2 separate regions of the Homo sapiens genome follow, and region 2 is linked to region 1. Evidence: fine-mapped expression QTL. A gene starts in region 1. The other region holds a variant in brackets. All regions are shown on one strand. Distances are from middle to middle. Region 1 holds the start of CLEC3A (C-type lectin domain family 3 member A). Region 2 has its middle 22 kb from the start of WWOX.

Evidence for each region. PIP is the estimated chance that this variant, and not a neighbour inherited with it, causes the effect. A credible set is the group of variants that fine-mapping cannot tell apart.
Region 2: its variant is the best candidate, but not a certain one, in a credible set for the expression of CLEC3A in coronary artery (GTEx, PIP 0.60).

What each region holds. Positions count from the first base shown.
Region 1 is chr16:78,020,171-78,025,553 of GRCh38, reverse strand. CLEC3A (C-type lectin domain family 3 member A) reads right to left here and starts at 3,006. Exons shown (of 3, transcript NM_005752.6): 1 at 2,813-3,006. The coding sequence starts at 2,927. RefSeq lists an enhancer at 5,202-5,371.
Region 2 is chr16:78,075,087-78,080,469 of GRCh38, reverse strand. No RefSeq gene overlaps it. Among named protein-coding and RNA genes, the nearest start is that of WWOX, 22 kb to the left of the region's middle. The variant G/A (reference allele first, on the strand shown) is at 3,215.

The sequences.
Region 1 (5,383 bases):
CAGAAGACATGGCCAGTAAAACCATTATATGATGTTGGACTGTCAAAATACATAGGAATGGGCACTCCCATACACAGAAGATGGGAAGATGGATTGGTGTTATCATTTGGAGGGACAATTAGAAAGTATAATTAACCTGCAATTTTACTTCTGGAAATGTCTCATAACATCCTAACATGGGGAGCAGTATGTGTGCAAAGCAGTTACTTGGGGCTATTGAATCAAAAAGAGATGTATTGGGAGAGATCAGATTAAGTGATGACCCATCCAAACAATGGAATATTATGCAGCTGTTAAAATGAATAAAGTATTGCTTACACTGGTAACTATCCAAGGTTTAATAGATGAAATAAATTTATTTGCCTAGCCAAACATTCTGCATAGCCAATTCTTATTTTGTTAAAAATATGTATTTTAATTGTGCATTTTAAAAACTCTGGGAATAGGCTGGGTATGATGGCTCATGCCTGCAATCCCATCACCTGAGGTCAGGAGTTTGAGACTAGCCTGGCCAACATGGTGAAACCCCATCTATACTAAAAAAGATGTATGTACAAATATCAGCTGGGCATGGTGGCGAGCACCTGTAGTCCCAGCTACTTGAGAGGCTGAGGTACTAGAATTGTTTGAACCTGGTGGGTAGAGGTTGCAGTGAGCCGAGATCACACCACTGCACTCCAGCCTGGGTGGCAGAGTGAGACTCTGTCTCAAAACAAACAATCCTACAAAAAACAAAACACAAAACTTCTGGGAATAGTATTACCTGATAGTTAATAGTGGATAATTTTGTGGTGAGGATTGGGAGAGAGAAGATGGCTTTCACTTTTGATCTCTTTAACACTGGTATTATTATATTTCAAGGTACTTAAACTATTTTAAAAGTATATGGATGGGTGGGGATATAATTGCTTGATCGGTTTAGGTTTATTGCTTCACCTACTGTAGAATCTACTTTCTAGGACCTAATGGCAAAAAGTAGCAAAAACTATACTGGGGGAATGACATTTAAGAGGTGTGTACCTAGTCAGTTTTGTTTTGTTTTGTTTTTAAATAAAAGCATGTGCATGCACATGTGGTTATGACAGAGGCAGTGGGGAAGAAGGGGGTAAAGAAGTGGGAAAGAAGGTAGGGAGAGAGAAGAGAGTGGGAGGAGGAAGGGGAGGGAGGCCCCTGGAAAACCTGGATGTGACCTAAGCTGCGATTACTTCAGAAACACCCACACAGCACCCACATGCACACTCAGTCATGTTCAGACCCTCTTCACACATTCCTACTGGGTGATCGCCACTCTCACGAGGAGTGCCACTCCATCCAGCAGTGAAGAAACGCTGGCTACAGAAATGTACCATGTCACCCAGTATCTTCTCTCTCCCCTCTCCTTTCGATACCATCTTCAGCAATATGTTTCATCTACTCATGAGAAATATTTTAATCTTTCACCGAAAGAAGTACAGTATTTCTTAAGGAAAAAAGATTCCACTTAAGAAACCTTGCACTAGCCGGGCGCGGTGGCTCACGCCTGTAATTCCAGCACTTTGGGAGGCCGAGGCTGACGAATCACGAGGTCAGGAGATCGAGACCATCCTGGCTAACACGGCGAAACCTCGTCTCTACTAAAAATACAAAAAATTAGTCGAGCGTGGTGGCAGGCGCCTGTAGTCCTAGCTACTTGGGAGGCTGAGGCAGGAGAATGGCGTGAACCCAGGAGGTGGAGCTTGTAGTGAGCCAAGATTGTGTCACTGCCCTCCAGCCTGGGCGACAGAGCGAGACTCTGTCTCAGAAAAAAAAAAAAAAAAGAAACCTTGCACCAGACCTAAATTTTGTAAATAAATGTCCCTGAAAAAATGGTACTTTATAATCCTTAAAGCACAAGACCCCTTTTTACCCACCAGCCATCTGTCATGTGAAATAGACTGTAACCTTGCTGAAATTTGTGTATGTGTGTGTTGTTACTAATGGAGTGAAAATAAGGAAATAGTCATAATCTGAAATATCCTGAAATGAAAATGATGCAGAGGATGTGATAAAACATGACCCTCTGTCTTGTTTTTTTCTTTTGCTTAGGTTTCAACGTATTGCAAACACCTCGCTATCATCATTGTTCTTTTCAATTTCTTTAACCTGTTAACCCAATTCAAGTCACTCAAAATTTGAGGTTCCTGGGAGATTCAGTTTTGCATCACAATGCCTTCAAATACTAGATGACTTTGCATATTGACTTTTTTAAGTTGGAGAGATTCAATGTCTCTGACATGAAAAAGTTTAAATATATGGTATAGGTTGTCCTTATGCTGCCAAGGATATGGAAATACAGCTAATGATAACTAATGACAAAACAGGAAGTCACCATTACCAAAATCTCTATCCTCTGCTACACATTGAATAAGATTATAGTTATCTTAAAATATAACTGAATTGAGTTACTCAATATCTACTAGTGAAACAGTGTGCTCAGTTAATACATTCTTCTTGCCCCATATTAATAACACCAGATTTTCAGAAATCCACTTGAGCTTCCTCTGAAGCACATTCTATTTAAGCCCACCTAACAAAAAATATACAACACAGAATTCTTTTACTATCAAATTTTTTCCCTGTTGTTTTTTTTTAAAACCCAGCAGCCTGGTTTCTTTAAAATAAACTATCCCAGAGCATTACAAGTTCACTTAATCCCCTGAAATGCCATATAGGGATGATGGCATGGTGCCATCACCGAAGATAGTCTCCTGGAGGAGTTTGAAAATTAACATTGTCCAGCACCTCCCCACACTGTCTAAGCCTAGAATTTTGCTTGATTGAGAAGCCCCATTACCTCTCACTCGACGTTTGCTGTGCTTCCTGGCTTTTAATCTGGATGTGTGGCTGGTGGTCTGGTCCAGGAGTAAGGTGATCACCAGGATGCAAATTACAAGTCCATTCTTTGCCATGGCTCTGGGGCAAGCCTGCTGAGCCATGTTGCCAGCCCCCTTAGAGCAGCTATGGAAGGAGACTACACAGCTACATCTTGCTCTGGGATGCCTGGGGCTGGCTTATAAAAGTGAGCTTCGGAGGTTGGCTGGAATCCTGCTGACGGAATGTTTGAATGCCTCTGCTGGCCACAGCATAAGGTGGCCTCTTGTTCTTGTGCCTCATGTTAGGCTTTCTATTTATTTAATTTCTGCTGCATTTCCTAGTGATTTGCCTTTTTGGAGTGTGTCAAACTTAACTACAGGTTTAGCCTGCTTTCTTTTTTTAAATTTAAACTCTGAGAAGATTGGGGTCTTTGTGAAAAATTCTTTGATTTGGAACTCTGAAATTCACTAAATGTTCTGGAAAATGGATTCAATTTAGTTTTCAGGGCAAAAAAAAAATTGGAGAAAAAGGAAAGTTACTGCGTGTGTGTGTGTGTGTGGTGCCACAGCACCATTCAAGCCAGTGTGTCTACTCATACTCATGTGTCTGCGCAGCTCAAGTGTAGCTTGGAAGTAGTTTTCTCAGTGGGATTTATGGAGATTGCGGAAATAGATACTCGATGATAAAATATAGGGCTTTCCTCCATTAGGATTTTGTAGACTCATCAAGAATTACTTCCTTGGGGCTGCATGTGGTGGCTCACACCTGTAGTCCCAGTGGGAGGCCGAAGTGGGTGGATCCCTTGAGGTCAGGAGTTCGAGAAGAGCACGGGCAACATGGCGAAACACCATCTCTACAAAAAAATAAAAAAATTCATCAGGCATGGTGGCACACATTTGTAATGCCAGCTACCTGGGAGGTTGAGGTGTGAGAATCACCTGAGCCCCAGGAGTTCGAGATCACTGCCCTCCAGCCCGGGCAAATTACTTTCTTGGGAAAATGTACCTTACAGTGAAAAGAAAATTTTAAAAAGTGAATTATTTCCATTAGAATAAGAATTAATGTAATAGATCAATAGCTATTTTTTCAGGTCCTCACCAATCATTTTTCCTTGAACACATTAAACAACACTTTCAAGTGCATGATGTAATAGCACAGAAACCTAGTGAGAGACTCGCCGGGCGTGGTGGCTCACGCCTGTAATCCCGGCACTTTGGGACGCTGAGGTGTGTGGATCACTTGAGGTCAGGAGTTCGAGACCAGCCTGGCCAACATGAGGAAACCCTGTCTCTACTAAAAAACGCAAAAAGATTAGTTGGGCGTGGTGGCAGGAGTCTGTAGTCCCAGCTACTCTGGAGGCTGAGGCAGGAGAATCGCTTGAACTCACAAGGCAGAAGTTGCAGTGAGCCGGGATTTTGTCACAGCACTCCAGCCTGGGCGACGGAGCCAGACTCCTTCTCAAATAAAAAATAAAAATAAAATTAATGTAATGAGAAACTCAATTATTCCTACCTTTAACCATAGGCTTTAAGGGCAAGTTTTCGGGACCTGATAGGCTTTTGCATCAAAAGCAATGGACTTGCATTACAGGAATAGCCGAGAGGGAGGAATTTAGACCCAGGGAAAGGCCTTCCTGCATTCCACATGCTTATTTGGCTGACCAGGTGCAAATGGAGGGCAGTGGTTGCAGATTTGGAAGGTCTGAAGGACCAAGTTCATTTTGCCTTTGTTTTTTCTTTGAGACAATACAGAAAGAATCAAGGAATGAGTGCTTCCTTCTGAATCTTAATGAGAAAAACCACAGTCTATTTCATCTTCATTTCCTCCAAGTTAAAGCCATTTTGTAACCTACCAATATAGTAAGACCATAGTAAGACCACTGATGTAGGAAAGTCTGACATGATTCAGCAAAGTAACTGTACAATTAAAGATCTGACCTCCGGTGTTGACTCTTTGTACCAACATGGGCAGTTAATGCATGGGCATTTGAGAACATTGTGAAGACAGGCTGAGCTCAGTTCACAACCTACCGCTTAGCTGTGTGATCTCAGGCAAGTCAATAAACCTCTATAAGGCTTCTCTCATCTTAACAGTGGGGGCTAGGAATGCTTATTTTACAGGGCTGTTGGAAAGATTAAATGAGATAATGGCTATGAAGCACTTAGCGCAATGTCCAGTATTTAATAATAAGATCCTTACCATTAATTACAATGGTACATACAATTTATGGAATGCCATCTTTTTAGTCTTCACAGCAAGCCTGTGGGATAAGTAATAATATTATCTCCATTTTAAAGGTGATTGAGCCTCAAAAGTTAAGTGGTTTTTGTCTAACATCACTAAGATCTCAAGGAACTGAGTAGAAATTACAATCCAGTTTTGATTAACTCCAGAAGACCTGGGCTGTGAAAATGTGCTTTGGTTTGAACAGGGGAAAAGATCAATGATTTACACCTGATCTTACAATTGATCAAAAATTTTCTTTGCCATCTTCCTAAATCCTTTTAAAAAAATTTCAAGTTATGGGCCAGGTGTGGTGGCTCGTGCCTAT
Region 2 (5,383 bases), 55 kb before region 1:
AAGAGATGAAAAGAGATTAGCATCTGGGAGAGAACTTATGCTGCCTGGGCTTATATACAGTACCTCATTGCATATCCCAGCCACCATTTAGAGAGGCTCTCCCGCCTCCATTATGCTGACAAGCACATCAAGAATGAAGGAGATGAAATTACACGGTTGTGGTTCTTCCCACAGCTAATCTTGGAGCTAGCATCCTAGTAAGAGCTGGCCACAGTGCTAGGTGTTTCAGACTGAAAAGCTAAGAACATTTCTAGCATTTGTTTAATAAAGGTAAATTAATTAGGATCTGGTTAGCCATAAAACTAGATATTAAAATAGCTTACTAAACCTAGATAACCTCTATCCCTAATAGAGATTAATATCTTGAATAAAAGACATGTGATTATAAAAACCTAGAAGAGAAGGGTCTACTCTTTTTTGAGACAGGGTCTCCCTCTGTTGGCCAGGCTGGAGGGCAGTGGTGCAATCATAGCTCACTACAGCCTCGAACTCCTGGCTTCAAGTGATCTTTCTGCCTCATCCTCCCAAGTAGCTGGGACTGATGGAAGACAGGTGAGCCCCAAATTGGGGCTTAGCCTGCAAGAGTTCTTGGCTTCACCCAAGAAAGAATTTAAGGGTAAGCTGTTAGTAGAGTAGAAGAAAACAGTTTACTGAAGCAGCAGTGTTATAGCTCCGGCAGTGTTGCAGCTCTGTGACTGCCCCTGCAGAGCAGGACTATGCCATAGGCAGAAAGTAGCAGCTCAGGGCAGTTCTGCATTCATATTTATACCTACTTTTAATTGCATGCAGATTAAGAAGCAGTTTATGCAGAAATTTCTAGGGAAAGGGTAGTAACTTCTGGGTCATTGGGTTGTTGCCATGGAAAGGGAAACTCACAGGCATTGCCATGGCAATGGTAAACTGACATGGCACACTGGTGGGCATGTCTTATGGAAAGCTGCTTCTACCCCCTCCCTGATTTAGCTAGTCCTCAATTTGGTCCAGTGTTCGAGCCCACCTCTAGAGTTGAGTGCCACCTCATGCCTTAGGACTACAGGCATGAGACACCATGCCCGGCTAAGAGAAGTGTCTTCAAAGTGAAGTACATACCTGTCTCACCCCACCTTTCCTCTTTACTAGAAAATGGACATGATGTACGGAACTTGTGCAACTATGATCCAATGAAACTTCTTTGCTTTATAAATTACCCAGTCTCAGGTATTTCTTTATAGCAGTATGAGAATGGACTAATGTGTGCCCTGACATAGGAATTAATTCACCATTAGTCCAATTCATTCAAGGCAACCCATTCCTCCTGGCCCTAGTCAAGACCTGAGCCTAGTCAAGGCTCAGCACAAATACAGCTTCCCCTGGAAGCCTTCACAGGCCCTCCAGAACCTTTGCTATGGTTTATTTATTACCCTATATGTCTCCTTATAGCATTTATCTTTATTTTAGTTGAAAAAAAATATTTTAAGTGTGTTAGTCATTTAATGTCTGTTTCACCCAACAGAATGTTAGTGACTTTAGACAGGGACCATGTCTTAGTCATCACTGTAATCCCCAGTACCTAGTAAATTGCCTGGCAAATAATAGGTGCTTAGTGAATATTTGCTGAGTGAATGACAGCTTTCTGAAGAGAAGTTTGAAATGATGCAGATACTCTATCACCTGGCATGTTCTGCTCGGAGATGCTGGTTAGCAAGCTGCAACTATAAGTGGCTTATACAGTTAAGACAAAAGTATTTCTTATAATCAGAACTCCTGACTTAGAGTGGTTTCAGGGCTGGTTAATTCCAGAACCCAGGCTCTTTTCTTTTTTTTTTTTTTCTACACAGGGCCCTGCTCTGTCATTCAGGCTGGACTGCCATGCCATGATGACTGTTCACTGCAACCTCAAACTCCTGGGCTCAAGTGATCCTCCTGCCTCAGCCTCCCAAGTAGCTGAGACTACAGGCATGCAGCACCATGCCTGGCTAATCCAGGCTCTTTTAATCTTTTCATTCTGCTATTCTCTTCAGGGCATCAGCTGGCTCCACTCATGGTTCCTAATATACTGACCTTAATTCCAAGGTGAGAAGATTATATCCAGGAGCAGAAAAACATTCCTTCCTTGTGCCCTTGCTCAAGAATGAAAGAAATCTCCCTGTACACCCTTCATTGGCCAGAATTTTGCAACACACTCATCCTTGATCATTGGCAAGGGCGATGGCATTCTGATGATCACTTTAGACTAAACCAGACTCAGTATTGAGTCCAGGAAGGAGCCCAGTTTTACCGCTTCCCTGGCCCATGAATGCAGTCATGACTGCATTGGCACAAAAGATGCTGGGTGTGTGTGCATGCGTGTGCCTGTGTGTTTGCTGATGCTGGGGTGAGAAGAGGAGTTTTATAAGCACCCAAGAATGCCTGCCATCCACCCTCACTGTGCATCAATAGGCTAGTAACATGCAGAAACTCATTAGAAGAAATATTGGCATCCAAATACTGTGTGTAGCCATGGAAGAAAAGTGCAATTTGCCTTAAAAACATTCCTATTTTTCAGGGTCATTCAGATGGCAATGGAGTGCTGATTAAATCCACTGAAGTCAGTAATTCACTGCAGACAAAAAATAAAAAAAAGGGGCCTCATAGTTACTTTCACTGTAATTCAAATATTAATGCCCTCATTTTCAGAAATTTAAAAGAAGTCAGATTACACAGATTTAGTGACTAATATAAAAACCAAAAGAAGGTGAACATTACAAGATACCAAGTCAAAATATTTACCATATAACAACAATAATAGCAGCAAGTAACATTACGTACATAGTGTTTATTTTGTGTTTCAGTGCCAGGCACTGGTAGTGGTATACTGGCATTATTTTACCTGATCACAAATACAAGGAATTCACAGGCTGCCTTGATGGTTTTAAAAATCTTTTTATAGAGCAACTGGAATATTTATATTCAATAGGCAAGAAGAGAGAAATATGTAATATATAGTACTAGAATATAACAATAATACAATAAGTATAATATATTGAGCCATTTGAAAGAACTAGGTGCAGTGGCTCACGCCTATAATCCCAGCACTTTGGGAGGCCAAGGTGGGTGGATCACCTGAGGTCAGGAGTTTGAAAGCAGCCTGGCCAACATGGTGAAACCCCATCTGTACTAAAAATACAAAAAGTAGCTGGGCATGGTGGCGGGCACCTGTAATCCCAGCTACTTGGGAGGCTGAGGCACAAGAATC[G/A]CTTGAACACGAGAGGTGGTGGTTGCAGTGAGCTGAGATCGTGCCATTGCACTCCAGCCTGGGTGACAGAATGAGACTCCATCTCAAAAAAAAAAAAAAAAAAGAACTAGATTGAGCATGGAGGTTCATATCTATCATGCCTGTAATCTAGCACTTGGGAGGCAAAGGTGGGTGGATCGCTTGAGTCTGAGAGTTTGAGATCAGCCTGGGCAACATGACAAATACCCATCTCTACAAAAATTATAAAAATTATTCAGGCATGGCGGTTCCCACATGTAGTCTAAGCTACTTGAGAGGCTGAGACGGGAGGATCACTTGAGCCCAGGAGGCAGAGGTTGCAGTGAGCCCTGACTGTACTACTGCACTCTAGCCTGGCTAATGGAGGGAGTCTCTGTCTTAAAAAGAAAAAAGAACCAATTTTTTTTATTGATTAAGGAAAGTTAGGGCATTAATAAATGTGAAAACCTTAGATGACACCAAAAAGTGTCAATTTTTGTTTGTTTGTTTTTGAGACAGAGTTTTGCTCTTGTCACCCAGGCTGGTGTGCAATGGCACAATCTTGGCTCACTGCAACTTCCACCTCCTGGATTCAAGCGATTCTCCTGCCTCAGCCTCCCAAGTAGCTGGGACTACAGGGGCCTGTCATCACGCCTGGCTAATTTTTGCATTTTTGGTAGAGACGGGGTTTCACCATGTTGGCCAGGCTGGTCCCGAACTCCTAACCTCAGGTGATCCACCCGCCTCAGCCTCCCAAAGTGCTGGGATTACAGGCGTGAGCCACTGCGCCCAGCTTAAAAGTGCCAATTGTTATTTAGAGTGAGGCAATGGTCAGCAGATCAAGGTAACCATTGGACCAGTTAGTGTCCTCTTCAATGTCACATCCCTGCCTGCCCTGCCTCTGGGGTAAGGCTGCCCCTCCAGCACTATGCAGTGTGGCAGCCCGTGAGAGGCCAGTCTTCTCCAGACTTCCCTGTTGGGAAATGGCACCACCATACTCCGAGCTCCAAATGCTACACACCCAGCAGCCAAGCTTGACCCTGTTGATTCTGTCCCAAAATGCATGAATCCCATGCATGAATATTGGGTGTTGTCTGGGAGCGTTGGCCCACATTTACTGCCTCTGGAACCCAGCATGGTGGAACGGCTGCTCTTTCAAGTGATGCTGGTTGCTAATTGCCATGGCATAAAGAAAGAGAGCTCTGGAGGGTCTCACAATGGTGATTAAATGACCTGTCGCTTCTATTCACAAAGCATTGGTGAGAGCAAGTTTCATAGCCCTACCCAACCACAAGGGGCCAAGGAAGCACAATCCTATGAAGGGACCAGAAGGCAGGCAGTTGGAACTATTCAGGAAACAGCACCAATCACCAGCTCCCCAGCCCTCTCACCATTTCAAATACCTTTGTCACCCTATTTATTTCTTTCATAGGAAACCACTATGAGAAATATCACTAACATCTTATTCATCATTTGCAGTTTTATTGTCTGTCTTCCCCTCTAGAATTGAATCTCCAACATGACACTGCTCGTCTGTCTTGTTTGTCATTATGTCTTCAGTACCCAGTGCAGTGCCTGCCACACGCTGGGAGCTCGTTCATTTACTCATTCATTCATACTACCAAATTATTGAACATATTAGTGTCCTTGAGTTAGCCTCACAAAGTGTCACAAATTGGGCAGCTTACAACTAATTTATTTTCTCATAGTTCTGAAAGTCAAAAGTCAGTCGGAAGTTAAGGTATCAACAAGGCCACACTCTGCTCCCTCTGAAGGCTCTAGAAGGTAATCTTTCCTTGCCTCTTACAGCCTCTGGTGGCTCCCAGGCTCATTGCCGCATCACCCCAATCTCTGCTTCCATCTTCAATGGCTTTTCCTTTCTGTTGCTTAAAAAGATACTTGTCATTAGATTGAAGGCCTACTCAGGTAATCCAGGGTGATATCATCTAAGATTCTTAACATAATTATATCTTCAAAGACCTTTTTTTTCCCCCAAGTAAGATCACATTCACAGGTTCTAGGGCTTAGGATGTGGACATGCATTTTGGGGGGGGCCACCATTCAACTCACTGTAAGCACCTACTATGTGCCACACACCATTCTAAGTGCTGAGATGACCACAGTGAACGATATGAATACAAATCCCTGACCTTATAGAGCTGAAACATTAGT